3 linked regions of the Homo sapiens genome follow. The protein of the gene in region 3 purifies or fractionates together with the protein of the main gene of each other region. This does not show direct contact. Each region holds a gene or a part of one and is shown on either strand. Other genes may lie near its edges. The genes, in order: PPP2R5B, ASAP2 and KNDC1.

Evidence for each region.
Region 1: the proteins of KNDC1 (region 3) and PPP2R5B purify together in Homo sapiens (affinity purification with mass spectrometry; one large-scale study listed by BioGRID and IntAct). This does not show direct contact.
Region 2: the proteins of KNDC1 (region 3) and ASAP2 purify together in Homo sapiens (affinity purification with mass spectrometry; one large-scale study listed by BioGRID and IntAct). This does not show direct contact.

The regions. Positions count from the first base shown.
Region 1 is NC_000011.10:64,927,586-64,931,233, reverse strand, and holds part of PPP2R5B (serine/threonine-protein phosphatase 2A 56 kDa regulatory subunit beta isoform), read right to left. Parts: intron 3,433-3,648; coding exon 3,331-3,432; intron 3,169-3,330; coding exon 3,076-3,168; intron 2,940-3,075; coding exon 2,809-2,939; intron 913-2,808; coding exon 853-912; intron 754-852; coding exon 645-753; intron 1-644. UniProt on the Homo sapiens protein: As the regulatory component of the serine/threonine-protein phosphatase 2A (PP2A) holoenzyme, modulates substrate specificity, subcellular localization, and responsiveness to phosphorylation.
Region 2 is NC_000002.12:9,213,306-9,216,953, forward strand, and holds part of ASAP2 (arf-GAP with SH3 domain, ANK repeat and PH domain-containing protein 2), read left to right. Parts: intron 1-3,648. UniProt on the Homo sapiens protein: Activates the small GTPases ARF1, ARF5 and ARF6. Regulates the formation of post-Golgi vesicles and modulates constitutive secretion. Modulates phagocytosis mediated by Fc gamma receptor and ARF6. Modulates PXN recruitment to focal contacts and cell migration.
Region 3 is NC_000010.11:133,187,597-133,191,244, reverse strand, and holds part of KNDC1 (kinase non-catalytic C-lobe domain-containing protein 1), read right to left. Parts: intron 2,707-3,648; coding exon 2,592-2,706; intron 1,648-2,591; coding exon 1,576-1,647; intron 1,494-1,575; coding exon 1,432-1,493; intron 1-1,431. UniProt on the Homo sapiens protein: RAS-Guanine nucleotide exchange factor (GEF) that controls the negative regulation of neuronal dendrite growth by mediating a signaling pathway linking RAS and MAP2. May be involved in cellular senescence.

The sequences.
Region 1 (3,648 bases), on a different chromosome or scaffold from region 3:
TGGGGACAGTCAACAAACTCATCTTTATAAATTTTGCAAAAGGTTCCATAATATGGCTAGTGTGGTGGCTCACGCCTGTAATCCAAGCACTTTGGGAGGCCGAGGCAGCAGAATCACTTGAGCCTGGGAGTTTGAGACCAGCCTAGGTAACATAGCAAGACACTGTCTCTACAAAAAAAAAATTTTTTTTAATTAGCCAGGCATGTGGCACATACATCTGTGGTCCCAGCTACTCGGGAGGCTGAGAAGGGAGGACTGCTTGAGCCCAGCAGGTAGAGGCTTCAGTGAGCCATGTTCATACCACTGCTCTCCAGCTGAGGCAACAGAGTACGGTTTTGTCTCAAAAAAAAAAATTGTGTATCAAAATCTCCCATAATAGATTTGTGTATCCAAATATTTGGGAATATAGATGGAGAAGAATGTAATTCTGCCAAGGGAGGGTAGAGAAGAAAAGCCTGGCTTCACAGAGCTGATATCTGAGGTTAGCCTTAAAGCGCCAGTGGGAATTTTCTAAGGTAGATGGAACAGAATTATAAAGACAAAGAAGGTGAGATAGGATCCCTGGAGGATCTGACCTCCAGGACCCACTGGCTGCCCTGACTGTCTGGAGCTCCTGCTGCAGCAGGGACAGGCCTGGGCCTCACCTGGGCATGGAAGACAGACAGCGACTTGACAGAGTGCAGGGGGATCAGGACGCGAACCAGGAACTGCTTGTGCTCCGTCTTCAGGGGCAGCGCAAAGCCATTGATGATGCTGAGGAGGAGGCAGAAGAGAGGAAGAGGGCTCAGGTGACCTGGCCCCAGTCCCTCCTTCCAGAATCCTGAGCTCCAGCTGAGGCCCAGGGAGAATCACCTTCCTAGGATCTCCAGCAGCTCAGCCACACCATTGAAGTGCTCGAATTCATAGATGAACCTGCAAGAGAAGAACGCAGGTGGGCTCAAAGCAAGCAGGGTAGGCCCAGTGCCCCCTTAGGCATCCTGCCTGCCCACCCTCACCTGCACGGCACGCTCATCCAACTCTCCCCCAACCCAGAGGCTGCGCTCCCTTCCCAACATCCCAAACCAGGCCCCATTGAGATCCCCGCCCCCCCACACTGAAATGCCCTTCTCAGCCCAGCCACCTCTGCCACTGAGTCCCAAGCTCAAGGCTCTCTTGCCAGTCAACCAAGAGAATGACAAACACTTAGCACATCTACTCCGTACCATGTAAGTCTCAGAATTATCCAGGGAGATGGGGCTTAAGAAATCCATCACATGGATGAAGAAATCAAGACTCAGCGGTTAAATAAAACAACCCCAATGTTAATAGGCAGGGAATCTAATGAACTCCAAGGTGCAGGAGGACAGGGATCATGGCTCACCCATTTTGTAGCTAATAACAACTAATGTTTCAGAGTCCCGGCCTCAGTCCAGGAGCTATGCTGAGTGCTTTGCAGGCAAGGCCCCATGTCACCTCGATAATGGTCCCTGAGTTAGTACAAGCAGCATCCCCATTTTTATCTTATCTTTGAGATGGAATCTCGCTCTGTCGCCCAGGCAGGAGTGCAGTGGCGCAATCTTGGCTCACTGCAACCTCCACCTCCCAGGCTCAAGCGATTCTCCTGCCTCAGCCTCCTGAGTAGCTGGGATTGCAGGTGTTTACCACCACACTCAGCTAATTTTTGTATTTTTAGTAGAGACGGAGTTTCACCACGTTGGCCAGGCTGATCTTGAACTCCTGATCTCAAGTGATCTGCCCACCTCCAACTCCCAAAGTGCTGGGATTACAGGCATGAGCCACTGCACCCAGCCAGCATTCCCATTTTAAAGACGAGCAAACTAGGAGAGAGCTTAAGTAATTTGCCAAAGTTCACCCAAACGTTGGAACCAAACTCAAATGTAGGCCATACAGCTTCAGAGCCATGGTCTCAACTACAAGGCCACGTGAGCCTTGATGCCCAGTGGGTGCTGGTGCTCAGTGCATGTTTGCAGAAAGAATCTCTCTCTGGGTCCTTATGGCCTGGCATGATAAGGGTCAAATGATTTAGCTCCTAGGCCCCTGGACTGACCCAGTCCCTGCAAACCATTTCATCTCTCTTGGCCTCTACTTTCTCATCTGTAAAATGGAAATAAATACCCATTCTCTGTCAACTTCACAGGCTTTGTATAATCAATATGTAATACGTTACTGAGAAAGGGCTTGGAAAACAGAAGTTCTACAAGGGCCCCTGCAGCCCAGGAGCCTTTGCTGCAGTCTTCTTTTTTTTTGTTTTCTTTTCTTTTTTTTTTTGAGACACAGTCTCCCCGTTGCCCAGGCTGGAGTGCAGTGGCATGATCTCGGCTCACTGTAAACTCCACCTCCTGGGTTCATCCGTCTCGCTCTGTCGCCCAGGCCGGACTGCGGACTGCAGTGGCGCAGTCTCGGCTCACTGCAAGCTCCGCTTCCCGGGTTCACGCCATTCTCCTGCCTCAGCCTCCCGAGTAGCTGGGACTACAGGCGCCCGCCACCGCGCCCGGCTAATTTTTTGTATTTTTAGTAGAGACGGGGTTTCACCTGGGTTCAAGTAATTCTTGTCTCAGCGTCCCAAGTAGCTGGAATTACAGGTGCCCACCACCATGCCTGGCTAATGTTTGTATTTTTATTAGAGACGGGGTTTCACCATGTTGGCCAGGTTGGTCTCAAACTCCTCACCTTAGGTGATCCACCCACCTCGGCCTCCCAAAGTGCTGGGATTACAGGTGTGAGCCACCGCACATGGCCTTTGCCGCAGTCTTCTAACAGCCCTCTCACCCTCCCCAGGTCTCTGCTGGGCAGGCAGCAGCCACTCACCGGAGGAAGATGTGGTTGCACTGTTTGCGGATGTAGGCCCGGAGACCCAGGAACTTGCCATAGACCCGGTGCAGGATGGTCTTGAGGTACTCACGCTCCCGGGGATCCTCACTATCAAATAGCTCCAGGAGCTGTGGGAACCAGAGTCAGGGTCAGGGTCAGGGTCAGGGGAAAGGTCCACCCCAGGTTGCTTCCATCCTATCCCTGGCCCCTCAGAGAGCCTGCCCCTGCCTTGTGGTACCACCCAGCCTGGGCTCCCCACTTCACCATCAGGACAAACTTTTGATCCACATATCTCTTGGCCACGGAGGGCTGGAAGTCTGGGCTCTCCAAGAAACGCAGGAAAAACTCATATACCAGCTGGGGGAGGGGGACAGACAAAAAGGTGAGTTCAGTAACAGCCTCACCCACTCATTCCACCCTATGGCCCTCATCCAACTGTCTAGGGGCTAAGGAGGCCCTCTCCCCATGCCTTGGATCTCTTCTGAAACTTGGATCTCTGTCTTCCCCAACCCTTCAGACCTGCAGGTGTGGCCACGAAGGCTCAAGATTGGGCTCATCCTCTTCAGGGTCAAATTCAGGGTTCTCACTGGGCGGCAGAGTCCGGAAGATATTCACTGAGATCTGAGTGGCAGAGTTGGGGTTCATTAAGGAAAAGCCCTTGAAGACAGAAGCCAGGGAGTCTCTCATTCAAAGCTTTTTTTTTTTTTTTCTTTCCCAAGACAGGGTCTCGCTCTGTTGCCCAAGCTGGAGCGCAGTGGTACAATCTCGACTCACTGCAACCTCAACCTCCCAGGCAGGCTCAAGCGATCCTCCCACCTCAGCCTTCTGAGTAGCTGG
Region 2 (3,648 bases), on a different chromosome or scaffold from region 3:
AGGTCAGGGTGTGTGGGGAGGAGTGGGCGAGGAAGAGAAGGATGAGAGACGGGCAGAGGGGTGGGCAGTGCCAGGTCACAGAGGGCCTTGTCCATCTTGGGGAAGGAATTTGGATTTTGTTCTAGTGTGATGGGAAGCTGTTGAAGGGTTTTGAGCAGGGAATAACATGGTCCGATATCCATTTTAAAGACTTCACTGTGGTTCTAGGGAAAACAGACTAGCAGGGCATGAAAGGAAAGAGGGAGACCAGTTGTGGGGTGAGGGGCTATTGCAGTCATCTAGGCAAGAGGTCTTGGATGAGGAGGTAGCAGGGGGGGTGGTGGTAAGTGGCCTGATTGAGGTCCATTGTACAAGAAGAGGGGTCCAAACCTACTGATGGATTGTCATTATTGTGTGCTAGTGGCATAGAGGTAGACCCAATAGAACTCCTGCCCCAAACAGGGCAACAGCCAAGCTCAGTTCATCCAAGCCCCCTGAACAGACCTTCCAGCATCCCCATGGTGAAGCTGTTGCTGTCTAGAGCTACTTAGTGTCAGAATCCAGGCCAGCTCTGTGCTGCTTGATGTGACTGGTTATAGGACTTGTGTTGGGACCAGTTCCAGGGTCAATCAAGGAAAGATTGAAGCATAGCTGCATAGACTGGGGCCCAGGGAAAGAGAGAAGCATGGCTGCATAGACTGAGACTGAGGGATCTGCTCATGCGACCCTCTGCTGTTTCTATGCAGACTACAGCAGGTGATACTTATGGGCATTGTCAGATGCCTGGGATGCTATCCCCATTTCAGCTCCCCAAACACTCCTCTTTCTTTCCCTACTAAAGAGAGGTGACGTTCCGTGATATGAACCTACCTCCTTTGCTTACGCCTTTTCTGTGTAATGTGGCCTCCAAGTGGATTGCTAGGGCCCTTCCAGGTACTTTTTTTCTTTTCTTTTTCTTTTTTATTTTGTTTGAGGTGGAGTCTTGCTCGGTTACCCAGGCTGGAGTGCAGTGGTGCGATCTCGGTTCACTGCAACCTCTGCCTCTCGAGTTCAAGGGGGATTCTCCTGCCTCAGCCTCCTGAGCAGCTGGGATTACAGGTGACTGCCACCATGCCCGGCTGATTTTTGTATTACTAGTAGAGATGGGGTTTCACCATGTTGGCCAGGCTGGTCTTGAACTCCTGACCTCAGGTGATCCGCCCACCTCGGCCTCACAAAGTGCTGGGATTATAGGCGTGAGCCGCTGCGCCCGGCTGCCTTTCCAGGTGCTTTTATACCATTATCGTTTTTATCATGTCAACAATGTCTTGGAATAAACAGACTACCAACCCGAGCTGGAATACTTGGGCTGTATTTTTATGATGATGGTCATTTCTATGAAGGGATTTGACTGATTTAGTTTCTTCACTCATAAATGTATATTGGGCCCCTACCGTATGTTGTCACTGCCAGGTGCCAGGGATGTAAAAGTGGACAGGATGGCCTGGACGTCTAAAAAAAAAAAAAAAAAAAAAGTGAACAGGACTAGCTCCTTCCTTAGAAAGCACTTAATAGTCTCATGTTTTATGTGCAGTTCTGTTTCATCCTTTTAACCTTGTTTGTGCCATGGCTCCCTTTGACACTCTGGCGAAGGTGATCTGCCTCTTCAGAAAAATGTTTTAATGCAGAGAACAAAATAAGATTCCGAAGGAAACTAATCACAGTCATGCATTGCTTAATGACGAACATGCATCGTTAAGATTTCTTCATTGTGCGAACATCCTAGAGTGCACTTACACACACCCAGATGGCATGCAGGCACCTAGGCTATATATTAAGAGCCTATTGCTCCTAGGCTGCAAACCTTACAGCATGCCACTGTGTTGAATACCGTGGTAACTGCGACACAGTTACAGTATTTATGTGTGGTATTTGTGTATCTAAACATAGAAAAGACAGTAAAAATCCCTCTTATAATCTTATGAGAGGTCGTCTGTGTGGTTCATTGTTGACTGAAATGTCACTATGTGGAGCACGACTGTATATTGAAATTCAGTTAGGAGAATATTTTAAAAATTTTTACCATGCTCATAATGCTTCTTTACTAAAGCATTTAATAACAAGATTTACTGGTGGGTCTAACAAATACCTTAATTTTGAGGTATTGATGAATATAAACAATACGAGATATTTCTAATAAAGATAATGTAATGTTCATATCTTTTATTGCAAGTATTGATAATATTACCATGTGTTGCTTACATTTGTAATTGAAAGATACGATAAATTTCAGTTAGACCCTAATGAAAATACAGATAATTTTTTTTTTCCAATCCAAGTTTATGGACCCCCTGGATTCAGACAGAGAATTCCAGGCTTGATGGTAAGATTTGTTTAGCTAGTTTTTTTTTTTTTTTTGGAGTGATGGATTCTTTAACCACTCTGTTTGTTAAATATAATTATTATATTTCATAATTATTATACTGTCCTTGCCATGAATTGGTTCTAAGAGTCTAGCTGAGAAGAGTTGCACCCTAGGCCAGTGTTAGAATTATGAGGCGCTAAAGGTGTTTAGAAGCGCTCTTGGCGGGGAGCCATCCACTGTGGTTTTACATCCGTGGGGTGCCCTCTGTTCTTTCAGGGTTATGGCTTGGCAGCTTCTCATCTGATCCCACAGGTCAGTTCATATACTTGTGCATGCCTCAAGAGTTCAGCAGAGCTGCACATTGGACCTTCTGAGTCCTGTAATTAGGATTCTGAGCTGGGTAGGTCCTACAACCCAGCTCTCCTATTTGTGCCTTTCTTGTTTGTGTCACACGGCATGTACTGCCTTTGACTCTGCAGGGCAAGTTCCATTGTGAAGCACCAGAAGATTCATGGGCACCACCTACCCAGAATTTTAAGGGAGACTTTGCAGTGTGTGTTATTTTCAGTGAGGGTATGGATTTGAAATGCTGCTGCTGTTGCAAGAGTGTGTTGGGGATATCCAGAGTGTGGGTGAAGTCAATGTCAGTTCATATTTTTTTTTTTTTTTTTTTTCTGAGACAGGGTCTGGCTCTGTTGCCCAGGCTTGAGTGCAGTGGTGTGATCTTGGCTCACCACAGCCTTGACCTCCTGGGCTCAAGCGATCCTCCTGCCTCAGCCTCCTGTGTAGCTGGGACTACAGGTGTGCCCCACCATGCCTGTTTAATTTTTTTTTTTTTTTTTTTTTTTTTGAGACGGTGTCTCACTCTGTCACCCAGGCTGGACTGCAGTGGTGCCATCTCAGCTCACTGCAATCTCTGCCTCCCAGGTTCAAGTGATTCTTGTGCCTCAGCCTCCTGAGTAGCTGGGATTACAGGTGCCAACCACCACACCCAGCTAATTTTTGTATTTTTAGTAGAGACGGGGTTTTGCCATGTTGGGCAGGCTGGTCTCGAACTCCTGACCTCAAGTGATCCACCCACCTTGGCCTCCCAAAGTGCTGGGATTGCAAGTGTGAGCCACCATGCCCGGTCCCTGATTAATTTTTGTATTTTTTTGTAGAGAAGGTTTCACCATGTCATGGCTGGTCTTGAACTCCTGGACTCAAGTGATCCTCCTGCCTTGCCCTCCCAAAGTGCTGGTATTATAGGCGTGAACCACCGTGCCCAGCCTCCCCCTTGTCTTTTCTAACATTTATGGGGCACTTATTATGTGCCAGATATGCTT
Region 3 (3,648 bases):
CATGTGCCACCACACCTGGCTGGGATTACAGGCACGTGCCACCACACCCGGCTAATTTTTGTATTTTTAGTAGAGATGGGGTTTCGCCATGTTGCCCAGGCTGGTCTCGAACTCCTGGACTCAAGTGATCTGCCCGCCTTGGCCTCCCAAATTGCTGGAATTACAGGCGTGAGTCACCATGCCCGGCCAGTTGGGGCTTAAACTCTTTTTTATTACTCCAAAAAGCTTCATTTTTTCTTAGTTTTCTGACTCTGTGCTTGTGCCTCAGCACTTTCCCAGCGATTTTCGTTCCTTGAAGGGGAAAGCACTAACCCTGAAGGGATCCCACAGGAACACACACAGTGCACACAGAGCCACTGCAGCCTCACGGACGCGGTTTTTGTTTGAGACAATCTCATAAGAGCTTCAGGTCTCACAGCACCAACCCCCTGAGGTCGGCCTGGGCCACCTGCAGATGACAGTGCTTTCCCAGCCTTCTTGGTGTAAAGGTGAACGATCTATTGCTGGGGTTCAGGACAGCCTCTTTTCGTTACAGGCTAGACTGCAGGAAAGCCTTCGATGGTTTGGCAAATGGTGGACCATTCCGAGTTTCTCTAGACAACATCCCCAGAAGATGAAAAAGCGCGGCTTTTAGTGTGCGCCCATTGCTTTTTCCCGGTCACCGGCTTCTTTACCTCCAAGTCTCAATATGTGAGGCAGAAGGAAAACCCAGGGCACTCACGGCTGCCTTGTTCCTTGGTCCAGAGGCCCCTCGCCGGCTGCCGTCTCCTCCCCCTGCAGGTGGCCTGGTGCTTGTTTTTTGCACAGTGTGCAGGGTGCTTACTGCAGGGTGCTTAGTGCAGGGTGCTTACTGCAGGGTGTTTAGTGCAGGGTGTTTGTTTAGTGCAGGGTGCTTAGTGCAGGGTGTTTAGTGCAGGGTGCTTACTGCAGGGTGTTTAATGCAGGGTGGTTAGCGCAGGGTGCTTATTGCAGGGTGTTTGTTTAGTGCAGGGTGCTTAGTGTAGGGTACTTAGTGCTCTTCCTCGGTGGGAGGAGCGGGAAGTACACATTTCTATCATTCCTGAGTGGAAGTTTTACCTTGATTTTGAATGTAATTTATTGAATTGTATTTAAATTTGTGTAATTTAAATTTTAAGAATGCTCATGTTTCACAGGTGCCTTATACACATCCCTGGTTGTTTAGCCCTTAGTTCTCGTGAGCCAGGAGGCGCAGCTCTAGTGCACATGGCCAGTGCCGTCCACACCAAGCCCTGTCTTGGTGCCCCGGCCAGAGCCACGGCCCTGCTGGCAGATACCGCCTGTGGCCGCCTGGCCAGGAAGGGCTGCCCTGACTCCCTCGAGTCCTGATGGGGGGCTGCTGGACAGATGGGGGACGTGGCATCCCCGAGGGCTGGGGGCAGGGCTGGGGCAGGGTGGGGAGGGCCCGGGTACCTTTTCAGTTACCAGCCTCTCCTCTGCCAGCTCGGGAGCCAGAAAGAACGAGTCATAGGAACCTAAGAGAGAAACCCGACTGAGCTTTCCTCACCCCTGGCGAGCCGGTGCTGGACTCGGCCTGAGGGGAACCCACACACTCACCGTTGGCAGGGGGTGGCTGGAAGAGCACAGCCCCGTCCTCAGCAACCAGCACGGAGTCCAGACACAGGTAGGCTGTGGCAGAGCTTGGGTCAGGGCGGGTATGCATGCTGCCCCGCACTTGGGGCTGGCTGGGGGGAAGGAGCTGCGGAGCCTCAGTCAGGCCGGGCAGCCCCCCAGCCTCCCCATTGCACGGGCACGCACCTGCCAGTGCACGCACATGGCCTGACCCCAGCCCCCGGGGTCCTCGGAGCTGCCTCCTCCCAGCCCTCCCCGAGGGTAGCGCTGCCCCAGCCGACACAGTGGCTGCAGCGGCATATCTGCGGCTGAAAGGGAGCCAAGCGGCAGGGAGAACACGGTAACTTGAAGCCCCCGTGTCACAGGCCCCGTCCCGAGTCAGGGCCCACGGGGCAGCCACGGGCTCACGGTGGACGGACACTGGAGCCGGGTGTGTCTCCGATGGCCTCTCCCCCAGCCCTTTCAGATGCTGCCCTCATCACCCCCAGGACGTTTTTACGTCTCAGATGCACCGTCCGTCTGCCCTGATGTCTGGCAGGGCTAGGCTTTGACGGGGCAGACCCGTGCAATGCTGAAGATTCCCTCCCCACTCCAAAGCCAATTGCTGCCTCCCTGGGGACAATGTCACTGTGTTGAGAATGTGTGGGCGAGGGCCATGGCAAAGTCCCCGTTCCTCTTTACGGCACAGTCACCGGTTTCAAGGCCCACCTTGCAGGCATCTGTCCCCACACCTCCCTCGGTGCTGCAACCCAGCAGGCACCCACAAGGTGCTCCAGACGGGAGCCGCCTGTTCCGTTCACCGGAGACACTGTCCTGGCTGCCCCTGGGTCCCTTGGTTCAGGTGGGGGCCAGTTACGCATGGGACGGCAGGGGTGATGGGACAGTGGGGGGGCGTGGGACGGTGTGGGGGGTGGGACGGCGGGGGTGTGGGACGGCGGTGGGGGGTGGAACAGCAGTGGGGGGTGGGGACGGCGGGGGGGATGGGATGGTGCGTGCGTCACCTGGGTGCTCAGGGCGTGTCTGCAGTGCGCGGAGGCAGGCCAGGCACAGGGCCCACAGCTCGTACTCCCGGAAGGGCCGGCCCAGCTGGGACAGGAGGTCCTGCAGGGACACCCACTGTGGGCAGGAGAGCGGCGAGGTCAGTGTGGACACCCCTTGCCAGGGCCCGCCGCCTGGAGAGGCATGTCCGGGGGACAGGCCAGGGTGAGGCCCACTCAGCCCCTGAGTAGGCGCCCCCCACACCTGATAGAAGGGCTAGGGAGGTCCCTAAGTCAACTCCAGCGTGTGGGGGCCGTGGGGAGACTGGGGCCCTTGGCCCTGTGGGTGGGAACGTCCCACGGTGCAGCCACTGCAGACGACAGTGCTGCCGTTCCTTGAAAAGCTCAACATACACCTCCCAGGTGACAGCAGTTCCACACGGCCACATTCCCCGAGGAACCGAGGGCAGGGCTCACGCATACGTGCACACCCATGTTCCCAGCAGCACGGCTCGAAATAGCCAACACGGGGAGCACCCAGGCATCCACGGACGGACGCAGGGGCAGTGTGGATGGCGCTTGGCCTCGGGACAGGGATGGGGGGTTCTCACGCAGGCTCCCTGGGGAGGAACCGTGAGGACAGTGGGCTCAGTGAAGAGACCAGACACACAGCTCTGTCCATCCCACTCCCACGAGGCCCCTGGACAGAGCTCATGGAGGGGAAGGGTGGGACGGGGTGCAGGGGCCAGGCTCATGGAGGTGGAGGGCGGGACGGGGTGCAGGGGGCGGGCTCGGGGGTTGGGGTTTCGTGTGGGCTGATGGGGACAGCTGTGCAACAGCGTGAACACACCCAATGCCGCTGAGCTGTGCTCTTGCAGAGGGTTGAAGTGGTGGCTTTTGTTCGGTGCATTTTCTCACATACACACACACCGTGACACCAGGCATGCGTTCAGCCTGGGAGGCCACTCTCCACTCCAAGGCCTCACGGACAGCTGGGACCAAAGTCCACCCTCCAACAGGTGGCTCGGCCACCCTGTGCCTCCGTGTGCCCTTCGGGAAGGTAGGCTGTTGTGCGTGGGAA